Homo sapiens: one gene and its partners. The protein of the gene in region 5 purifies or fractionates together with the protein of the main gene of each other region. This does not show direct contact. Each region holds a gene or a part of one and is shown on either strand. Other genes may lie near its edges. The genes, in order: HCN1, HSD17B8, RGS3, MBIP, SEPTIN3 and PCMTD2.

What was found.
Region 1: the proteins of SEPTIN3 (region 5) and HCN1 purify together in Homo sapiens (co-immunoprecipitation; one large-scale study listed by IntAct). This does not show direct contact.
Region 2: the proteins of SEPTIN3 (region 5) and HSD17B8 purify together in Homo sapiens (affinity purification with mass spectrometry; 4 studies listed by BioGRID and IntAct, with this or other methods). This does not show direct contact.
Region 3: the proteins of SEPTIN3 (region 5) and RGS3 purify together in Homo sapiens (co-immunoprecipitation; one large-scale study listed by IntAct). This does not show direct contact.
Region 4: the proteins of SEPTIN3 (region 5) and MBIP purify together in Homo sapiens (co-immunoprecipitation; one large-scale study listed by IntAct). This does not show direct contact.
Region 6: the proteins of SEPTIN3 (region 5) and PCMTD2 purify together in Homo sapiens (affinity purification with mass spectrometry; 2 studies listed by BioGRID and IntAct, with this or other methods). This does not show direct contact.

Annotation. Positions count from the first base shown.
Region 1 is NC_000005.10:45,644,360-45,647,893, forward strand, and holds part of HCN1 (potassium/sodium hyperpolarization-activated cyclic nucleotide-gated channel 1), read right to left. Parts: intron 1,250-3,534; coding exon 826-1,249; intron 1-825. UniProt on the Homo sapiens protein: Hyperpolarization-activated ion channel that are permeable to sodium and potassium ions. Displays lower selectivity for K(+) over Na(+) ions.
Region 2 is NC_000006.12:33,203,179-33,207,365, reverse strand, and holds HSD17B8 ((3R)-3-hydroxyacyl-CoA dehydrogenase), read right to left. Parts: upstream 2,712-4,187; 5' UTR 2,698-2,711; coding exon 2,646-2,697; intron 2,465-2,645; coding exon 2,247-2,464; intron 2,146-2,246; coding exon 2,029-2,145; intron 1,920-2,028; coding exon 1,827-1,919; intron 1,727-1,826; coding exon 1,641-1,726; intron 1,539-1,640; coding exon 1,454-1,538; intron 1,233-1,453; coding exon 1,190-1,232; intron 992-1,189; coding exon 917-991; intron 729-916; coding exon 712-728; 3' UTR 535-711; downstream 1-534. Other genes in the region: zinc transporter SLC39A7 isoform 1 precursor, read right to left, coding at 3,553-3,825. UniProt on the Homo sapiens protein: Required for the solubility and assembly of the heterotetramer 3-ketoacyl-[acyl carrier protein] (ACP) reductase functional complex (KAR or KAR1) that forms part of the mitochondrial fatty acid synthase (mtFAS).
Region 3 is NC_000009.12:113,501,706-113,505,239, reverse strand, and holds part of RGS3 (regulator of G-protein signaling 3), read right to left. Parts: intron 1-3,534. UniProt on the Homo sapiens protein: Down-regulates signaling from heterotrimeric G-proteins by increasing the GTPase activity of the alpha subunits, thereby driving them into their inactive GDP-bound form.
Region 4 is NC_000014.9:36,303,610-36,307,143, forward strand, and holds part of MBIP (MAP3K12-binding inhibitory protein 1), read right to left. Parts: intron 1-3,534. UniProt on the Homo sapiens protein: Inhibits the MAP3K12 activity to induce the activation of the JNK/SAPK pathway. Component of the ATAC complex, a complex with histone acetyltransferase activity on histones H3 and H4.
Region 5 is NC_000022.11:41,993,431-41,996,103, reverse strand, and holds part of SEPTIN3 (neuronal-specific septin-3), read right to left. Parts: intron 1,815-2,673; coding exon 1,763-1,814; intron 1,484-1,762; coding exon 1,390-1,483; coding exon of another isoform or gene 1,348-1,389; exon of another isoform or gene 1-1,347. UniProt on the Homo sapiens protein: Filament-forming cytoskeletal GTPase. May play a role in cytokinesis.
Region 6 is NC_000020.11:64,262,233-64,265,766, reverse strand, and holds part of PCMTD2 (protein-L-isoaspartate O-methyltransferase domain-containing protein 2), read right to left. Parts: intron 1,339-3,534; coding exon 1,236-1,338; intron 510-1,235; coding exon 338-509; intron 1-337. UniProt on the Homo sapiens protein: May act as a substrate recognition component of an ECS (Elongin BC-CUL5-SOCS-box protein) E3 ubiquitin ligase complex which mediates the ubiquitination and subsequent proteasomal degradation of target proteins.

The DNA of each region.
Region 1 (3,534 bases), on a different chromosome or scaffold from region 5:
AAATGGTTAATATTCAGACTTTGAAGATAGGGATATGAACTCCTTTGCTTGATGATGGTTTAACTCAGATCTTTGGAAACTCCAGTTGGCTGAGCCCTCTCAGGTCCCACCCACTGCCTAACAACAGATGCTCTATTCAGCAAAATATGGGCCTGATTGGTCAGATTCACTCCATTTATTCACTATACTCTTTGTGTTTTCTATGTACTAATGTCCCTCATGAATATGTTCCTTTTTAGTATTATGAAATGAACTAATAGGGAGAAACTAAAATAAGTTACTATAGGCAAGGCATAACAATAAGCAAAATTAATATGCTAAAATCAAAGCCTTTATATATACAATTTGGAAATAAAGAAACAATCTGTTTTACCCAATCATGAATTCAATGAAACTTCAATATTAGAGGATACAAAAACCACACTATCTCACAGAGCTAATGATGTGCCAGATTAGCAATCAGACCCTACACATCTTTATCAAAATAATGGTACTTGATGTATTTATATTAGATTAAAAAAAACCAAGGTGGGAAAGGGGTTGTATTGATCAAGATAATAATTGCTGATTAAAGTGCATTTATTTAAAAATAAAATAAATTGGCATAAAACGATCACTATTTTTTTCAGTTCATTCAAATCCATTATTTGATCATATATTTTAGGGATACAAATATATCACTTATGCATGGAAAAGAGTCGTCGAATACATTTTTCTACTTGAATTTCATAAAACTCATTACACATTGCACAGTTGTTCATTGTAAAACAGCCATAATTAACAATTTCATGATATAGATTTAAAAAAGAAAAAGATGCATCTTACCTCTTCCCATTGATGTATGTATCTAATTAACCTTGAAAGTCGTAATAAACGCAAGAGACTGAGAATTTTTGTAAACCTCACAATGCGAAGTGCCCTGGCTGTCTTGTAAACTTCAGAATCCATTCCTTTTTCTACAATAAGAAAGATATAATCCACTGGGATGGATGAGATGAAGTCAACCACAAACCAGCTTTTTAAATAATTCATCTTGATCACTTTGGGGTCCAGGATGATTTCAGAACTGTCTTCATTGACAGTCCCAGTCCTAAAATTCATGATCAGGTCCAATAGGAAAACTGTATCTGATGCCACATTGAAAATAATCCATGGTGTTGTTGTTTGCTCTGTAAAGAATGTGATTCCAACTGGTATGATGACTAGATTTCCAACCATCATTATAAGCATTATTAAATCCCAGTAAAACCTACAACAAATAAAAAAATCAGATTTTAAGATATAGAAAATAACCAGCCTATCCCCCCCATGAAAAATTATTACTGATATATAGTGAGATCAATAAGTAAAAGAACAAAGAAATGATTTTATTTTTTAAAAATGTAATTCCTTAAATGGCTATATGTTTAAATCTAAGTAAAATTAATATATTCTTAAACCAAGGCATTATGATTATGGAATTCTAAAAATTATGTGATATGAAGCATTATACAAATAAAATCAAAAACATTCATACCCCCATTTATTTAGTAAAGAGGCAAAAAAAGCAACCTACCTTATACTTAATACAAAATATAGACAGAAACTAGAAAGAAGTATAAGATTAGAAGATCTGTAAGAAAGCCTTTGGGAAGGCTCTTTGAAGATGTTTTGAATTATTTTAGATGTCAATTTACCAATCATAGATTAGAAAAAAAAACCCAGAAATAAATAGGATACTCTAACAATTTTAGTTATGCAAATTTATCTCAAGGAATACAGATTAGTTTTGCCATGGAATCTAGAATACACTGGAGTTTTGCAGTACTCCAAATATTTTATGCTTTATTTTTCTTTTGCTTGAAATAAGAAAACTAATTTTGGTCTGATGCTAAAAAGAACTGAGCAAGTTCTACTCCATATTTGAAACTAGAATCTACCTAAAATTTGTGTTTTTATTACTACTCTATTGAACAACTACTTCAAATATATTGCCACTACTTTTCCATAAAAATTCTTTCTTTCTTTCTTTTTTTTTTTTTTTTTTTTGAGACGGAGTTTCATTCTTGTTGCCCAGGTTGGAGTACAATGGCACAATCTCAGCTCACTGAAACCTCCGCCTCCCAAGTTCAAGTGATTCTCCTCCCGCCTCAGCCTCCCGAGTAGCTGGCATTACAGGCGTGCCACCATGCCCAGCTAAAAAAAAATCTTTAACATTTCTAATTTAATTCTGAACATGCCTATGACTACTAAGTACCTTTTGAAATATTCTTATCTCAACTTACATTAAAATTGAGAGAAAACCAGGAACTTCATTGCTGGTTTATATAGCTTAACTAAATTAACTAAATTCACTTGACATAACTATAGTGTTATTTTTATAAGGGTTCTTTCAGTCTGTTGACACTCCTATTAATCAAATATTTATAGTTGTTACAGTATATACTTGCAAAAATGAAAAAATAAACACAACTGTATAATCATGAAATGTATCCAGAAACATGAGTTACTTTATCCTAGTCATAGGTATGTTATTTGAGGAGTTTTGTATAAACAATATAAACTTCCATGATAAAAATGTCTGTTTACCAAGATATTTTTGTTTTACATGAATACTCCTACTTAGACTATTTGAGCTACATTTTGGTGAGGTATACATGTGTATAAAGCTTTCAAAGTTACTATCATCTGTAATTAAGAATGACTCCTGAAATAAAAGTACTAGTTGAAGAAAAAACTATAATAGGCCCTATCTCCCCTGTCTCCAGCCTCAGGATGTTGTAAAGGATAAGCGTTTGTTATTTTGAAGATTTCACCAGTATTTCTGTCAAAACTTGCCTGCAATTTTTGAAACAACTGTACAAATACCCATGTCAGCCATACAACATGTACTGGCAGTTTAAATGAAATGGTTTTATATCTTCTCACAATGGAAATGCAAAATATACCATTCAACACAATAAGGACAGAGGAGAGATGTAGAGGAGGAGCAATATTGTAACAGCTATTTCACAAAGAAATGGCACCACTAAACTCTAAAATGAAACTGTGTGTACCCTGAGGATTTTTCACTTCTGGGCACTCCTATCAAGTCCCTTCTGTAAGCTTCTCTCTCTGCCCTCCCCTTCAAGGCTGTTGTTCCCCTGGGTGTCACACATAGCCCTTTCATCTTCTATTCTACGCATTGCCCTTGAGAAATATTATACACTTATCCATGCCTTTAATAATTAATTTGTAACTGATGACCCCAAAAGCTTTATCTTCAGTCCATTCCTATCTTCTAAGCCTCCTAATCCTCATAATCAGTAGCCCGTTAAATCTCTCTCCTGGCATATCTCACACTCATCTCAAACAGCATGCCTAAGCTCAAACTCATAATCTCCTCTCCCACATATATTCCTCACATATCCCCTATCTCAGGGAATGGAATAACTCTATGTGTGATTTGCAAGCCAGAAACCATGGAGCCATCCTAAATAACTCCTGGCCCTAAATCTGCTCAAACCCATATCCAATTGATCACCAAGGCTGTTTAGTTCTCACACCTAAATGTAT
Region 2 (4,187 bases), on a different chromosome or scaffold from region 5:
GCGCAGACCCCCCTCCCCTTCCTCCTCCTCTTCCCAGCCCCCTCCCTCCTGCTCTCTCCAGCCCCTTTCATCGGCTGGTTCATTCCCCTAATCCTGGCCCCCTCCCCTAATCCCCCCCATCCGACCCCAGGCCGGCTGCAGCTATTGTAAGGTGGAGAGAAAGGGGAGGGGGGGACTCAGAGAAAGGAGAGGGGTGGGGGAGGGCCACCTGTTCCAAGACCCCCTTTCAAGGCCAGACTGGACACCAAGATGGGGCCATGAACAAATCACCCTTGGGGACCATAAGAACCCAGGGAGTTGGGGGGAGGGGACTGGTGCTGCAGAACCAGTGGAAAGGGGTGACGCACGAACCCCTCCCTTCAAAAAGACCCGGAGTGTCACGCATACACAGTGACACATACTCTTTCCTCTCACACCCGGCGGCGGGGGTTGCCCTGGGAGACCAGGCAGAGAAAGGGAACAATCCTTCGGGAAAGGGAAAGGAGGGGGAGGTGGGGAAGGGTCTGAGGGCTTGGACACAAGAAGAGCCGGAGGTGGCAGGGAAGAGGACTTGGAATTTATTAGGGTCACAAGCACCCCTGCTTCCCATATTCAGCATTCCTGAACCATACACTGCCACCCCTTTTGTATCCTGGGAACTTAGAGTCCTCATCAGCAGGAGGCCAGGCAGAGTGGTGGGGGGGTGAGCAGAGTCCAGGGTCCTTGAGGCAGTTACATGAAAAGACCTCCTGGGAGGGGCAGAAACATTTGGACAGATGCATGGGTGGAGACACAAATGGGCTAGGGGGTACCCACTTCTGTCCCTGGCCTTGGGAACCTCTGCCCTTCCCAGTGGCTCCAGACTCCCCTTACTTGCTTTCTCATATAGTCTGGGTTCTACTTCTCTGCCCTCTCCCTCCCCATGCTGGCCTCATACCAGTGACTTCCACTGAGGTCCCTGTGATGTATCCACTATCTTCAGATGCCAAGAATGCGACCACATCTGCCACATCTATGAGAATGGTGGGGAGAGGGCAGAATTCTGCTCACTCCCATAGACCCAAAACAGCCATAATCTCCCACCAAAGACATCCCTCCCCACAAACCTCTCCACAGACACCAACCACCAGTCCCCTAGAAAATCCCCAAACTTTGGGGATCTCTTCATTCAGGCCCCCTTCCCAGGGACCCCACTACATTCAGTGCTCACCCTCAGGGTCCCCCAAGTGTCCCATCGGGATCATTTCAGTAATCTGTAAGGAAATACTCATGTGGGTGAAAGCTTCTTTTATGGATTTTTTTGAAGACTGAGTCTGTGACCCTTTTTTGTCTTCATTTCTCATACATTCATTGAATATTTAATGTTTGCCAGGAACTGTGCCCAGTATTCTCTCTCTCTCTCTCTCTCTCTCTCTGTGAAGCCCAGAGAGATTGAGTCTCTGAATGATTCTGCCCTCCACCCACAGCCTCCTACCTTGTCCACCACTTTCTGTGGCACTTTCTGTGTCATGGGTGTTGCAATGAACCCTGGGAGGACAGAGTTACAGCGGATCCCATGTCTGTGGGAAGGAGAGTGGCTGCCGATTCTGGAGAGGGCTGAATGCTGGTACCTCCCTCAGACCCCCCAGGTGCTCCCCAGCACCCTCAAGCATCTGACCAACCGTCCAAGCTCCCGGGCTGCGGTCTGGGTCAGCCCAATCACTCCAGCCTTGGATGCTGCATAGTTTGTCTGCCCCACGTTCCCCACCTATAGGTGAGTCAGAGATGTGGAATGAGTCAGGAGTCTCAAGGAGGGGTTCTCCTCTCTATACCACTTGGCTGGCTGACCTCGTCCAACTCAACCTGACCTTTCCTACGATGCTACTGATGTTGATGATGGAACCACGACAACCATTGGACACCAGGGCTTGTGCTGCAGCCTGAGTGACTAGGAAGGTGCCCTGGCGGGAAAGGGTAACAAGGGAGAAAAGATCAGCTGGGGTGACAGCCCTCCTCCAACTCCCTCCCCAGGCTAAGGGGGCCAAACGTCGCAGGTTCAGAGATCGCCACCTTGAGGTTGACAGCTATGACTTTGTCCCAGTCATCCTCAGACATGTGCAGCAGAAACTCATCCTGGGTGATGCCCGCACAGGACACAACGACAGATGGTGGGCGAGAAAAGCAGGCCTATGGGAGGGGGAGGTTACGCATCAAAAACCCCCCACAAAAAGCCGGGGCAGTGGAGGCAATATCAGAGCTTTAGAGGGGGAAAGTGGCCTAGCGTTCACCTGCACTTGTTCCAGCAGGCACCTGGCGGCCCTGGCCTCAGACACGTCAGCCTGGAAGGCAGCATGGTTCCCTCGGGGCGGCCCCTCCTTGCTCCCTGGCCCGCCCAGCAGCCGCACCGTCTCCTGTGCCGCTGCCCGGTCCAGGTCGCAGGCAGCTACGGTGGCCCCCTCTCCGGCCAGGCGTACACTGACCGCTCGGCCGATGCCGCTCCCCGCACCTGAGGTAGGACAGAACACGCCGGACCGGGCACGGGGAGGAGAGGGCAGGGATCAGAGGTCACAGGGCAGAAAGTAAAATGTGGGTAAGGGGCCAGAGGTCACAGCGGCCGCGCACTCCAAGGGCACGCCCCTGACCTCACTCCAATACCCCAAACCGCCCGGGGAAAGAACCCCCTCAACCTGTGACCAAGGCCAGTGCGGAGCGGAGTCGGTTCTGGAGCTGAGACGCCATGGCGGGCTGTGGGTGGGTGGGAATCCCAGCACTAAGCCAATCCCAGCGCAGAGGGGCGTGGCAAGGGCAAAGCCGGGGCCAATCAAAGGCCCGCCAGCCTTAGGCCATCTGCGGCCACCAGCGCAGGCCGACCTCCCACCGAGGGGGCGTGGCCCGACACTGCTGCTTAGGGGCCCCGGGTGTGGAGAAGACAAGGGGCCCCATTCCCCCCAAAAAGACAAAGACTGCATGTGGGGCGGAAGATCGGAGGTCTTTATTTCCGGTTACCACCCCTCCCCCTCGATTCAAACACAGTGATATAAAAGGAATAGAAACAAAAAAAATCAGGCCATGAGAATACCAACTAACCCTCTCCCACCCCATCCCCCCAATCACTCCCAAATCAGGACACACGATTGATGTTTGATGTTTATCCCCGACTCCTCCTGTTACCCTCTCTGTCCAGGACTCTGGTCTTCCCTGAAGCCTCCACCAACTGGTGGGAGAAAGGAAACTGGACCTTGGAGAACTTCCTGTGTAGCAACTTGGTTCTCCGAGAACAGGTGGGGTAGGGGACACCAGGTAGGCTGCCATCACCCCCTGTCCCTTCCAGCCTTCTTCATGGCCCCATTTAGCCTTCCAAATGCAACATGGTCAGACAGTGCCCAACACTATGGTCCCTCTGGCCTCTCATTCTCACCGCTCCAGCCTCTGTAAGACTGCCAGCCCTTGAAGGCCCTAATGCCAAAGTAACCATTCTCCCAGGCTACAGTTCCTTCCTTTGGCAGATGTCCCTGGCCAGGGCCCCCAACCTCTACGCACCCCTGACCTGGAGTTAGGGGTAGAGGTTTGGGGCAGGGGTAGTTTATCCACCCCTCACTCAAGGTGGGCAATCAGCACCATCATGATAACTCCCCCCAGCAGCCCCAGCACCTCCAGAAGTGATTGCAATGGTGATGCCTCCCTCAGCAGCTCGGGCAACACAGACACTGTTGCTACGTAGATAAAGCCACCTGCAGTAAATGGCAGGACCCAGCCAGGACCTGCACCACCTGCAATTTCACTGCCCACTGCTCCTCCTTCAGTGAGAAGGGCACAGGCTGTGCCTGCCAGTGCCCCTACTGCTGTCAGTAGTTGCAGACGCATCGCCTGATGGGCAGAAAAGAGAAAAAGGCACTCACCAATAGCTAAAGATTATCAGTGGTTTAGAAGTGGCTGGTGGGGTATAGGTATAGGGGACATGGATTTGGAAACTAAACATCAAAATAAAAAGAGAAGAGGGAGCAGTCTAGAATAGACAATTTCTGAAAAATCTTAAGAGATCAGAGGTCCTTTCCACAGACTTTCTGATTGAGTAGGCGTGTGTGTGTAAGACTCCACTAAACCATTCAGATGGTTTATAGACCAGTTTAAGAAATACTGAGCTAAAGGACAAAGTAACCAGAACTTCTTCCCCCTCATTTCTAGAGGACTTGTCAATGACAGTATGAATTGTTTGGAACTAATAAGAG
Region 3 (3,534 bases), on a different chromosome or scaffold from region 5:
GCCCAAAGCTCAGCAAGTAAACCCAGGCTGATGTGGGGAGGGCCTGGGATGGACAAGGTCTTGGAAAAGCAAACTTTGCCATCCTGAGCCCCAGCAGCCCCAGCCCTTGATCCAAGGGCCCACCAGCACTGCATGACTCAGCCTCACCTTTGATCCACTGTTTTCCTGGCTCCCTTCTTCCTTTCTCACAGAGGTTCACAGAGCGTTAGCCTGGGGCGGGCCCTGTGCTAAGGGCCCAAAGTCAAGGCCAGCCTGGTCACTGCCCTCCCAGAGCACAGGGGAGGAAACACTGGGACACACTCACTCCATCTCAGGCCAAGGGTCAGAGGAAGAGAGCTGAGGTTCTGGGGGCCAATCTGTGGCCAGGGCCCCAAGGCATCCCATGAGGACTCCCAGGTAAGGTCACAGATAGGCTTCCTGGCTGAACCTGAACTAGCCACTGACTCATGTGCCTGCTGAGGCCCATGTGCTTGACAGGTCCACAACTCCTACTTTCAGAAGTCCATGAGAGGGCCTTGCCATCTGGATGCTCTTTTCAAACTGGCACACAATTATTGAGCTCCTACAGCATGCCAGGCTCTGTGGACATACAGAGGCATGCAGCCTTGGTCTCTGGTTCCCAGAGGAGCACGAGGGTACACAAACCTCTCCAGAGTGAAGCAGGGCACAGCGGGCACTAAAGAAAAGCAGGAGGACTGGGCCATTCTCAGTCCTTTATGCTCCGACTATGGACGCCATGCTTGGCACATGGTAGGAACTCAGCAGAGGCTAATGCAGGGAGGACAGCCTGGCAGTGTCCCACACACAGGAGGATGTAGGGTGGTCTGCCAGCCCATTCCGGCTGCTAAAGGCAGCACAAATCAGAAAAGGGATTCAAGGGGTCCCGAGAGACCCCCTAGAGAAACTGGGACTTGGGGTGGGCCCTGGTGAGGCACAGGGAAGGGTGTCCCAAGTGAGTTGAGACAAAGGCCAGCTCAGCAAGCTTGGAAAAGGTCAAGGGCACAAGCCTTGTCAGGAGACTTCTGTCTCCTTCCTTTGAGGGTTGTCCCTGCAAGACTAGGCACCTGCACTCATTCACCTACCCACCATCCCAGGGCCAGGCATAAGGAAGGTGAGTGGGAGGGGGCTCAGAGTGACCAAGGGCCTTGGAAGCTGCAGGGACCTCTGAGGCTCTGCTTCCCACCAGCCCCGGGCCTGGATTCAAAGCAAGTTTGTAAAACAGGAAACCTGACAGACAAGGGGAAGGGGGAGGAGGCAGGAAAATACCCCGTTCCCATAAGAATTCTGGGAAAACACGCAGCTAAGACAGGAAGAGAAAAAAATGGAAAGAAAGAAAGAAAAACAAACGCGGGTACGAGTGTGGAAAGCTGGGGGAAAGGAGCAGCCACTAGTTGCCGGGCCCGCCTGAGGCCAGGGAAGACGCCAGGAGCCTGGCCCCCTCCATGGAACCAGCGGGGATTTTTTAGGGGCCTCACAAGCCAACCCTCAACCCAAGCACAAGCTGGGGTCCCAAAGCCTATCCAGCACTTCCCCACCCCTACCCCATCCAGGGCCAAAGCCCCCTGCATAGAAAACCCATCCCAGCACCCTGGGCTCTGGATGGCCAGTTATGGGGCAGTAACTGGAGAGTGGGGTCTGGGGAGGAGTGTGCTCCAAGAAAACAGCCTCCTCCTCCCACACCCAGACCCCACATCCAAGCAGGACTGTGGGCTGGGGGCCCCTCACCCTCCTGGGCACCAGCTTAAGAAGTGCCAGCCCAGACCACAGTCCAAGCCAGATGGGAGTGTGAAGGAGGGGAAGAGGAGAGGGTGCCGGGAGGCAAGCTCACCTCCTAGCTCGGAGGAAGCAGAATTACACTCTGTCCACCATGATCACTGACCACATTGAGAGGGTAGTGTCCAAAGAACCTGACCATCCCTGCAGCCCCTAGGGGAATGAGTATGCCCATTTTACAGACAAGGAGATAAGACTCGAAGTGCCACCCCCTCCACCCTCCGGCTCTCAGCCCTGCTCTGACCTGGAGGTGAAAGGAGCAGCCCTGCCCCGAGGCCTTGGCGGCTTCTGACAGAGCCTGTCCTTCCTGCGGGTGGTTCTCGCTCTTTCCTGTCCAGGGCAGGAACAGCCACTGCTCCCAGGTCTCACCCATGCCAGCCCCTTACCTCTGCTCTCCTGTCTAGTTTCTGTTCCTCTGTCCTGCCTAGACTGTAATCCCCAAATTCTGCCATGTATTAAACACCTCCTAGATAAATATGCACAGCAGACACTGAGCCAGGCTCTTCACACACATCATCCTATTCACTCCCATGGCACCATCGCTGGATTTCATTATCCTATTTTACTGACTAGGAGATAAAGGCTCAGAGAGGAACAGTGACTTGCTCAAAAGCCACAGCTAAAGAGGAACAGAGCTAGATTTGAGCTCAGACCTGACAAAAAGCTTGCTGCTCTCAATTCTGCACTGGTTTCTAACACAGAAACCATCTTGAACTCTGAGTCCCTGAGCCCTAGGTCCAGCCCACAATTGCTCCTGGCCCCACTCTGACAGCCAGCATGCCCAGTCTTCTAGCCCATAGCCCCAGGGTGACCAAGGACTACTAGATGTCCCAACCAGTGCTCTCTCTGTCTCACCACTCTGCCATCCAGACGCTAGTGTCGCAGGGGCTGCTTTTCCCAGCCCCATGAGGGCAGGAAACACAGAGTGGGGCCTGAAGGGCAGAACCTGAGAGCGGGGGAGGGCTAGAGAGAAAACACTGGATCCCCTAGCAGGCAGGTGGGGGGGCAGGGACCCCTCTGGGCATCTCCCTGGGACCTAAGCACTGCCAGTCAGAGGAGTCAAGACCCACAGTCCAATCTGGTCATTAAAACAAATAGAGGGGCTTCTCTATGTGATTTTTTAAAATCAGGACAATTTCAGAACTCCCTTCCAGATTAGATATCACTTGCCTTCACCATCCCTAACCCCATTCCTATTTTATGAGAAAAAATGGCCCATCACAGTTCTAGAAGAGGCTCAGGGGAGCTAATGGGATCATAATGGCCCAGTCTTCCCCCTTTCTAAGACCGGAGGCTAAGAGGCCAAACCCTCACTGTAAAGTTGGATTCCAAAGCCAAAGGAATCCTGAGCCATAGTGAGGCATCAGCAGTAGGGGAGAGGAAAGTTATACATATGTACATATACACGAAAACACCCGATCTCACATATGAGCACGTGCCAACATACACGCACAGGGGGCAGAATGGGCACTGCTGTCCTGTCAGAAGCAGGAAAAGTTAGCAAAAATACAAACTCTGCTCCCAGCTGCTCAGCAACCATGGCATTTTCAATCTCACACCCACAGCCCCTCCCCAGATAAAAAGAACAGAAAGCTAGCTGGATTATCTCACCAAAAACACCACCCAGCCAGTGGTTAGGACTCCATACAGAGCTGGGCCCTAAAGGGGCCTTGGGTCCAGCTCCTGTCTCTATCCTCCTCCCCATATCCAAGTGAGCCTGCAGGGAGCAGGAAAGGTCAAAGAAGACCTTGTGAGGAGCGA
Region 4 (3,534 bases), on a different chromosome or scaffold from region 5:
ATGGGATCACTGTAATATATGCAGTTGACTGTTGACTGAAACATCCTTATGCAGAGCATGACTGTCATACACACGTTCACGCACATGCACACACACATATGAATCCAGGGAACCAGTGCTCTAAGGAAACTCAAGGGTAAGGAGGCCTCTTCCATGACTGGCTTGCTTTCTTTCAGTTGTAAAAGGCAACTGATTCTATGCGTGCAGTATCTAAAATGTTTTTCTTCCCTTCTAGTCCCAGAGCCCTGATTCAGACCTTCATTTCTCTCTGGCTTGGATAATGACATGTTTCCTAAACTAGTTTCCTTGACTCCAATTTCTCTCCAACTCAGACTTCATAATGCCACCAGACAGGGACCTAAATTACAAGTTTCTCTCTTTCTCTAAAACTTAATTGTGCTCCAATGATACTAGAAGTGCAAACTGGTTAGTGTGACCTTCAAGGCCCTCTGAAATATGTTTACAATCTAATTTTCTAGCTGAATCCAGTTGTTCACTCATGCTTCAGACCCACCACACGTTCACACGCACATGGCCTGTGTACATGATGTTGACCTGATTTTCAGCATTCCCCTCCCCCGATACTTCCCTTAAGAACCAGGAGTTACTGTTACAGACTAAAAATTACTCTCAGTCAGTGCTTTGAACAAAGTTAACACACCTTCAAAGTCCAATAATGAGCTATCAGCCAAGTCCTATCCATTCATTTGCACATCTACTCGATATTGACTACATTCTGTGTCTCAAAGATGAACAAGACATAGTTCCTGCCCTTGAGAGTTTCAAAATATAAAGTGAAAAACATGTATAAACATATGAGTGATAAATGCTATAAACTAAACAATATACTTGTAAAAGCATGTTGGTACTTACTGTTTTCAAGTATCATAATTTAAAATCAGTAAGTCTTTGGAAATACTCTAAGATCGTTCTTTTAAATGGACTGTTAAGGCCATGCCCTTAAACTTTTGAAAACATTACATTTAAAGCTTTCCATGGCTAATGTGAAGAATAAAGATCTTTAGAACTCTTATATCAAAATGTCCAACAAGTATTATTAACTTTTGTCATAAATCCTGTTTTATACACATATAACTTATTTTGGAGTTTTATGTCTGGTCGTAAAATGAGAACTTTACATAATCTGATTACATTTTATAAAACAAATACAAATGACATCTTTTTTCCCCATAAATATTTGTTTTTCTATGCTACGCTTCAATGTTACCCATGATAATCAATCTCTATCCAATTGTAAGAAGCTCCCCCATGTTTAGAATTCATCTACATGTGAATCTGAATAAACACATTTCAATGAAAATCTTTTCAGAGTTCAGGAGTTCCAACAAAAGTTCAATCCTTAATAAACTGAATGGGCTCAACTTTCCTTTCCTATCTTTAGAAGCTATAGGACTGTGCTACATATGTAGTTTCTTCTGTATACTTTTGAGGGATAAATATGTAAAATTATGCAATTACCATGCATGTACTCCCAGCATGATGGTGAGGGTGATGAATAATGTACTATGTCCTCTGTAAGGTATGTGCTCAACTTCTCCTGTTTGCAAGGACACTCTTAGAGCTGACTGTATTCCAAGTGAGGTTCCTAAAGATGGCTCATTCATCCTATTATAGAAGGGTGATGAGTATGAAATCTTCTTTCCCATAGGGCTTGTGTCATGTATGTTCACAGGCCTAAAGGACAGAATGAGTCTGAATGTTTAAACTTTCCAGTGTTTTGTTCTTCCTTGTAGCTCACTACTAATTTAATGTGTCACTTACAACACTAATCCAGAAGAACTGCAGTTCTTCTAAAAGATATATAGTTTTTTTTTTTAACATATTTGGAAATACTTTTAAAAATCACCTGTTTTATCACAGGTTGCCACCATCCATCCTTTTCTGAATGCTTAATACATATATGCCAATCCTCTGTTTACATTTACAAATGCTTCCTGCCCCTGAAATTAGGCAGTCACCAAGCTTCAGACTTCAGGCCTCAGACAATCTGTGTTCCTATCCATCAATGGACTCTCACACTACACAGACTCTCCCAATTGTCCCAAGTGTAAGTGCCGTATCTCAAAAAGCTTACCTGATGTTTTTACCTTCATAACCTCCTCTGCCTTCAAATTCACATTTCCCACAAAAGTATCTCTCTCTCTAGATTTTCTTATTTCTATCAATGATGGTATCATTTTTCCAACCAGAAACTGGACTCTATCCTTGTTCTCTGTCTCTTTCCACATCCAATCATCAGTATTTGTCCATTTTTTTTCCTACTTGCATTAATCTTTTCCATTCTCACTCATGTCCCTATTTTAGGAACTAACTTCACATCTAAGCTAGCATAATACTATCTCCTTATCCTTAGTTTCTCTCGTTTGTCTCCCACAACTGTATTAGATAAATCTTTCTAAATATCGTGTTCACAAATCACTTCTCTGCTCAAATGCTTTCAGTAGATTCCCCCTGCTGCCTGCCTGGAAAATAGATTTTAAACTTCTGAGCATAGCACTTAAGGTCCTAACAATCTGGCTACTTCTACCTCTTTACCCACTCTATCCTATCTGTAACAGATCAAAACAAAACAAAAAGATTATGATGTGGAGGGCTTTTTTTTTTGTTAAACACATCTATAAGTTTTGTTTTTTTTGTTTTTGAGACCGAGTTTTGCTCTTGTTGCCCAGGCTGGAGTGCAATGGCGTGATCTTGGCTCATCGCAACCTAAGCCTCCTGGGTTCAAGCGATCCTCCTGCCTCAGCCTCCCAAGTAGCTGGGATTATAGGCATGCGCCACCATGCCCAGCTTATTTTTTTTATTTTTTATTTTTTTGTATTTTTAGTAGAGATGGGGTTTCTCCATGTTGGTCAGGCTGGTCTTGAACTCCCGACCTCTGGTGATCCGCCCACCTTGGCCTCCCAAAGTGCTGGGATTACAGGCGTGAGCCACTGCATCCGGCCTCTGTTAAGTTTTTATAAATCAGAATCAGAGAGAAGAGAGGAATGATGCTGCAGCAAGTTCTCATTGGAGGCATCTGATTTTACCATACTCTATTGTAAGATCGGTTCTATCGTTAATAAGAATTATATTAACAAGGTATGAAATTGAACTAGAAAAATAACTTTCCTAGGTTATTGCCTTCTTTAATGAAGGCAGTTAGAATGGGAAAAACTTATGGTAGACTACTGTAGGAAAAGTCATTAAAAATCTTTATGAAGTCTCCTAGGAAGACATTCAAAGAATAATCCTAAAAGTGAAAAGACCTTTGTAATTATGTAGTACAACCAATACATTTTCTAAAATTAGACATCTTGAAGATCAGAGGAATAGAGTGACTTTTCCACGTTTATACAGCTACTTTGTAGTTATAAAACTAAATAAATGCCAATGAGGTTTTTACCATGTGCTAAGCAGTATGCTAAGTGTTTGATCAGCATTATCTCATTTGATCTTTGCTTCAGCCCTTAGTATTTTCATAAACCTCATTTTACATTTGAGAGTAGTAAATCACTAAAACTCTTCTCTGAAATT
Region 5 (2,673 bases):
TAAATATGATTAGCTTCAGCACAAAAGTGATGGGGAATAGAAAAGAGAGGTCAAGTATGTATGAAGCAAATGGAGCAACAGAGAAGCCTGCTTAGAAGGGAGAGAAGTCTGACGGAGAAAACGGAGGTGTGGTCAAAAATTTGTCTTTGAAGCCAAATTACTAAGAAAGACAAATTATGTATATTGTTTCTGATACTTCTTTAGAATTAGTTCTAGAACCTGATGTCCCAATAAAAGGTTGTCTCACATGACTAGCATGTGTGCTTCCTTTAACTGGACACTGGGAACTGCATAACTCACTGTGTTTCCCTCTTTACATTGGCTGCCTGTGAGCTCAGGGCCTGTTCAGGTGCTTGACTACAGAAACTTTCTTTCCTATTCCTTTCTTTGACCCAGATTTCTCTGGCAATCTGTTTGTACTGTCCTGTAGTTTTGTGATTTTATGTGAAAGGCAGTCTAAAGTCATTTCTGGAAGTAGACTGGGCATAAATGCTAAATATAGGAATGAACCTAAAGTAGATTCATCTAAAAGGAAGTGAGAGATGTCAGAGACACGCAGGAGAGGGAGAGAAAGCAATGTATGAGGGAAGGAGGGAAAGGGAGAAAGAAGACAAAGTCGGAAGCAGAGACAGGCAGTGGCCTGGCAGCAGAGGCCAGTTGAGTGGAGAGCAGCAGTAGGCTCTGGTGACAGGTGGTAGCTTTGTGACACTGAACACGACACAGACTGAAGGGTGGAGCTCCATTTGTAGGCACTGATGCTTTCTGCAAGAACCCAGCTCTGGCCTACTTCTCTGCCTTCTCATGGCCTTCCTTTTCCCAGGAAGCCCCAGCCTTACCCCCAGACCACCCCCAACTTACAGGAGGGTTGTCCTGAACTCCCTGCCCCCTACTCAGGTCTAGCTCCACTGCCATCTGTCCTTGGAGAATCTCTATAGCCCCAGTTTGTGTGCAGGTTCCGAGAGAAGAGTTGCCTGTGGCTCACCTGCTCCCAGCACTTTTAAATGAAACCTCCCCCAGATCTCCTGAGTGAGGCAAACAGCTTTGTTTTGGGACACAAGGAAAGGAGACAGATAATGGACAGGCATGGAGGAGCCAAACTTACAAGGGACTCTCCAGGGAGGGCAGTGAAAATACCTCACCCCTGCATGCACACACACAGGCTCTCTCGCTCTCTCTCTGTCACACACACACACACACACACACACACACACACACACACAGACAAGATGCTCCACAAATACCAGACAGGCCTGTGGGACAGAGTTGAGAGGAAGAAGGTGGTTGGTGGTGGTATTTGGGATGTGTGTGTGTGAAGTGGGTATGTGTGATGACACAGAGAAGTGGTCGTCATGGGTTACTGTCGTGGCTTTCCTCTGTGTCCACGCTCACCGGAGGGAGGCCTCCATTGTCATTGAGCCGCTTGGCCCTGTAAGTCTCATAGTGGATGTTGTGTGTCACTTCCTTGAGGTCCTGGAGGTGGGTCCTAGAGGACACAGGGTGAGAAGAAGAGGGCTGCAATTAGGGGCAGGAAGAGGAGGCGGTGACACACATCACTTCGAGGGACTGGACCCAGTGAATGGGAACCACTCCCAGGAGCTAAGGATTCTTCTACAGCACCTTCCATTTTGCAACAGGAGCTGGAACTGGGGCAGAAAGCTCTGTCAGAGAGACCTGGAGATGCAGGAGGTGAATCTGAACAGATAGACCCTGACCCCAAATAATTCAACCTGCTGTCTGGACAGCTGGAGGGGAGACATCTTACCTGATGACAAAGTCTCGAAGCAGGGCAAACTCACAGTGGTTGAGGTTTTCCACTATGAACAAAACAAAACAAAGCAAAACAGGTAGTCAGTTCATTAATACAGCAACACCCAGGAGGTGAGCTTCTGTTTGGGTCACGGAGGCATTTAGGAGAAAGCTATGGGACAGGTCATTTTTTGTAACCCTTCCAGAGATTTGCTCACTTGGGTGTACTGGATTTGATTCATTGAACAAATATTAAGCAGCTACAATGGGCACGACATCCTTCTAGACGCTGTGGCATAATAGCCAAGAGGGACTATAATTTTTACCATTTTATAGAAGAGAAAACTAATACCAAGTCTGAGAAACTGGCCAAGGCCTAAGATACACTTCCCATTCTTCAGAAGCTTATAATCCGGTTGGAAGTAACACAGAGAAAATAATAATTGAGCCATTTTAAAAAGGTCATGCACTACATGACAAATCCAATTCAACATATATTGAATACCTAGTATTTGCAAATCATTGGCCAAGCACTGTTGGAACAGAATGAGGATTAAGACATGGGGCCAGGCGCTGTGGCTCATGCCTGTAATCCCAGCACTTTGGGAGGCCAAGGTAGGAGGATTACTGGAGCCCAGGAGTTTGAGATCAGCCTGGGTAACACAGTGAGACCCCCACCTCTATTAAAAATAAAAATAAAATCACCAGGCATGGTGGTTCACATCTGTAATCCCAGCACTTTGGGAGGCCAAGGCAAATGGATCACCTGAGGTCAGGAGTTCAAGACCAGCCTGACCAACATGACAAAACTCCATCTCTACGAAAAATACAAAAATTAGCTGGGCTAATTTTTGGGGATAAATAAAAAATACAAAAATCGGGGTCCGCACCTGTAGTCCCAGATACTTGGGAGACTAAGGCAGAAGA
Region 6 (3,534 bases), on a different chromosome or scaffold from region 5:
TTAACAATTAGAATTAAAACTCAGAACAGCTGGGGGGAAGGAGAAGGGGAAGGAAGAGGGAGGTGAGGGGGAAGGGACAGAAGAAGGAAAAAGAGAGAGACAGAGAAGGAAGGTGGAGAAAAGCGTTTCACGTGCAGGCTCTGAAGCACCCACCTGAGTCAGCTTCTGGCCCCAGCTAGGGCATGTGCGTGACCCTGCATCTCCCTCACCTGTCCCTGCCTCTGTTTCCTCATTTGTGAAATGCAGGAAATTGTTAAAAGAGTAAGTATCCGTACACTGCCCAGAACAGACCTTGGCACACAGTGTGCAGAAATGTCAGTTATGAAGGGAATCTGACCTTCTCTTCCAGTGGCATGACAAGGATCCCTCCCACTTTGAGAAGATTCTTCATGTACTCTTCATGCTCTTTCTGCACGCCAGCCCCACAGTATACACGATCATACTGAGAACAATCCGGAGAAATCTCCAGGCAATTCCCAGTAACAAAGGAAGGTTCACAGAAGTCAAACCTGGAAGTAAAAAATGCTTCCTGCAACTAAAAGTATCACATTGCAACAAGTCTATACAGTAAATCTATGCTAACCACAGGTTAAAATCCCACAGCAATGTAACACAGTTTACAGTGTGAGGAGCTGGAAGAAAAGAATTACAAATGTCCAAGAATTACTTCCAAAAAGAATTATACTATATAACTAGAACTCTAGAAATACCAAACAAAATAGTATGAAAGTGAATATCAAAAGTTTTATCCAAATTTCACACAATCTCCAGTCGCTGCTGTCTCTGTCATCTTCTTATCATCTTATGTAAGATCTATTAATACTACACAATGAGTGAGATGTGGGGGTGGTGAAACTGCACTTGGTGTTTCTAAAAATTTTAATCCCTAAAATAAGAACTTTAATGCCTTCTTTTAAAATGGCAAAAGCTAGTTACATATACTGTTTAGAGACAAATGCAACAATTTTATTTTAGGAAAAACTAGGTGGTAAACAGTTGTCTTCAACAGGAAACATGAATATTGAGCAAATGAACACCTTATGTATGTGTAACAGTTTGAAATACCCTAAAACCCTCAAAACACAGAATCTTTTCTGAAAATTAGAACAGGCACATAGAATCATCCCACCACAGTTTAATTATGTTTCCTACCACATGATTTCTTTCTATCTGATCAAAACTTTGTAAAATTACAGTTCACATCATCTGAGCCAATGGATAGTATTTCATCTTACTTGTCAAAACTATCACTTGTTCTGATGAAGAAGTCCAGTTTCTGCTTTGCATACTCTATCACATCTGAGTGAAGTTCCACCCCATGGTTCACACCAAAAGGACCTAAAAGGTTTAAGAATAAGAAAACATGTAGAACCAGAGTAAGAACTCTTGCTCATCTGTTCACTTCTACCAACTGTAACACGTCTGACTTAACATGTGTAACTACAGACATTCACAAAGTTTTGAAGTCTCATCACAGTATCACGGCTCACCACATCGTAAATACTTGAGGCCTGGGCTTCTCTGCTCACAAACTTTTAAAGAATCATTTGAAAATGGAGACAAACCAAGTGTTCAGGTCTTACTAATGAACTAAAGAAGAAACATGTATTTGCAAATGGAACTGACACAGGCCTCACCTGTTTGTCCAGAGGTAACATTTAAGACGATTCTGTTTTCCCTGAAAAGTTGCCCAGAACACTCAGATGTGAGCATTATAATATTCACAAAACAGGGTTCAATCATCATCATTAAGATAAAACTATGCTTCCAAGTCACAATGAAACATTTTTATATCAAAGGATATTTATCAGTAATTTGAAATACAACTGAGAAATGTTACAAGTCCACTTAATGATGACAGTGCTCCCCCGATATAAAACTGCCCCTACGTTAACTGGGAACACAGTATTGACACTCAACTTAAATGGGTCTCTCTGTTGCGGGAATCCACTTACATGAAGGTAAAAATCGGGCAAAATTCATCTTTGCCGACAAAGGCAAAACGGTCATCACCTTTCTGGAAGATGCAACACTGGTGAACTTTCTAGGAGGAGGAGGGGGCATGGGAGCCTTTTGGGGTGCTGATTCAACTCTGCATCTTGCTGTGGCTGGAGTTTATATGGCGGTGGATGCATATGTAAAAGTCCACCAGAATTCACACTTCACACTTGTTCATTTACTATGGGTAAGTTACACGTCAACTTTTTAAATCTACATGTAAAAATCACAAGGCACGTAGGACTTTACTTGGTAGACAGATATACTACTACAGTGATCATGTAGCACTGGACCCTACAATCTAACAGAAATGCTAAGAAATGGGCAACCTTCTGTGCATCCCACACCTTTGCACCGTGTGGGCCCTCCTAGTACAACAGCCACCAGCCCAGGCCAAGGCTTCCCTGGCCCCCATTTGGACAACTGTACCTGCTGCTCTTTTCTCTCCACGTATTTCATACACAGAGCTGCTGCTAAAACATTACCTCGTCAAAATACACCCTACCTGAGAGTTCCCCTTTTCACTGTTTACAACATCAAATCCTGAATTACTCTGAACGTCAAGACCTTCTGACAACTCCGACTTCAATTCCCGACTCTGCCAGAGACCAAAAATAGCGCTTGATTCTTCCCACTCATCTTATTTTCACTGACCCCTCACCTTCACTATCAAACACTTAATAAGCAGTTAATTCTAGTAACAGATATGAGATATGGTTCCTATTCCCAAGAAGCTTAACACCAAACAGTAGTAACACAAATACCTCGACCCACCTGCTTAATACAAAGATGACTAGCAGGGGAGGAGGACACAGGGTGGCCGGGGGGTGTCAGGAACACGGCACCTGGGACTCAGCACTGGAGCACGGCATGAAACCAGAGCAGCGAGGCCCCCCTGGCAGAGCCGCTCCTAGGTCTGCCCTGCTTCCGAATCACCCAGCACTTTTCAGGTAGGTGACTTATGAGCCACCATCTCTTAGTAGCTACTGTATTCTCCCCTGGTTGATGACAAACAAAGGTAAGGACAGCCCTGAGCAAAGGGGAGAGGAGCCCACAGAGCAAGCACAGGAACAGGGCTGACCCAGGATGCCGCTCAGGCCATGCGAAAGGCAGTCGGGGGTCACAGTAAAGAACTCCGTCAGATGAGAGACCCACATCCACAGGCGCCGGGAAGCCAATGAGGTTTCACTCTGGAGTGCTCTGCACCAAGTGCTATTAAGCTTGAATAAAAGCTGCAGCATCTGGAGACACAGCCAAGACACGCATCCATGACAGCAAACCCTGAAGTCACTTCCTTCAACTGCATCAAAGCAGCATGTTACATCCATTACAGCAGAAAACAGGCCTTTCCTTCCTTCAGACCTCTCTCCTCCCAAAATCCAATGAAATTTCCAGTAAACAGGGGATTCAGGAAAGAAAAGCAACTGTATCAAGTTGGAAGGCCTTTCCTTATAACTTCTAGGGGATGTCAAGTACAGCAAGGCCATTTCAGGCTTACTTTTTTTTTTTCTTTTTGAGATGGAGTCTGGCTCCGTT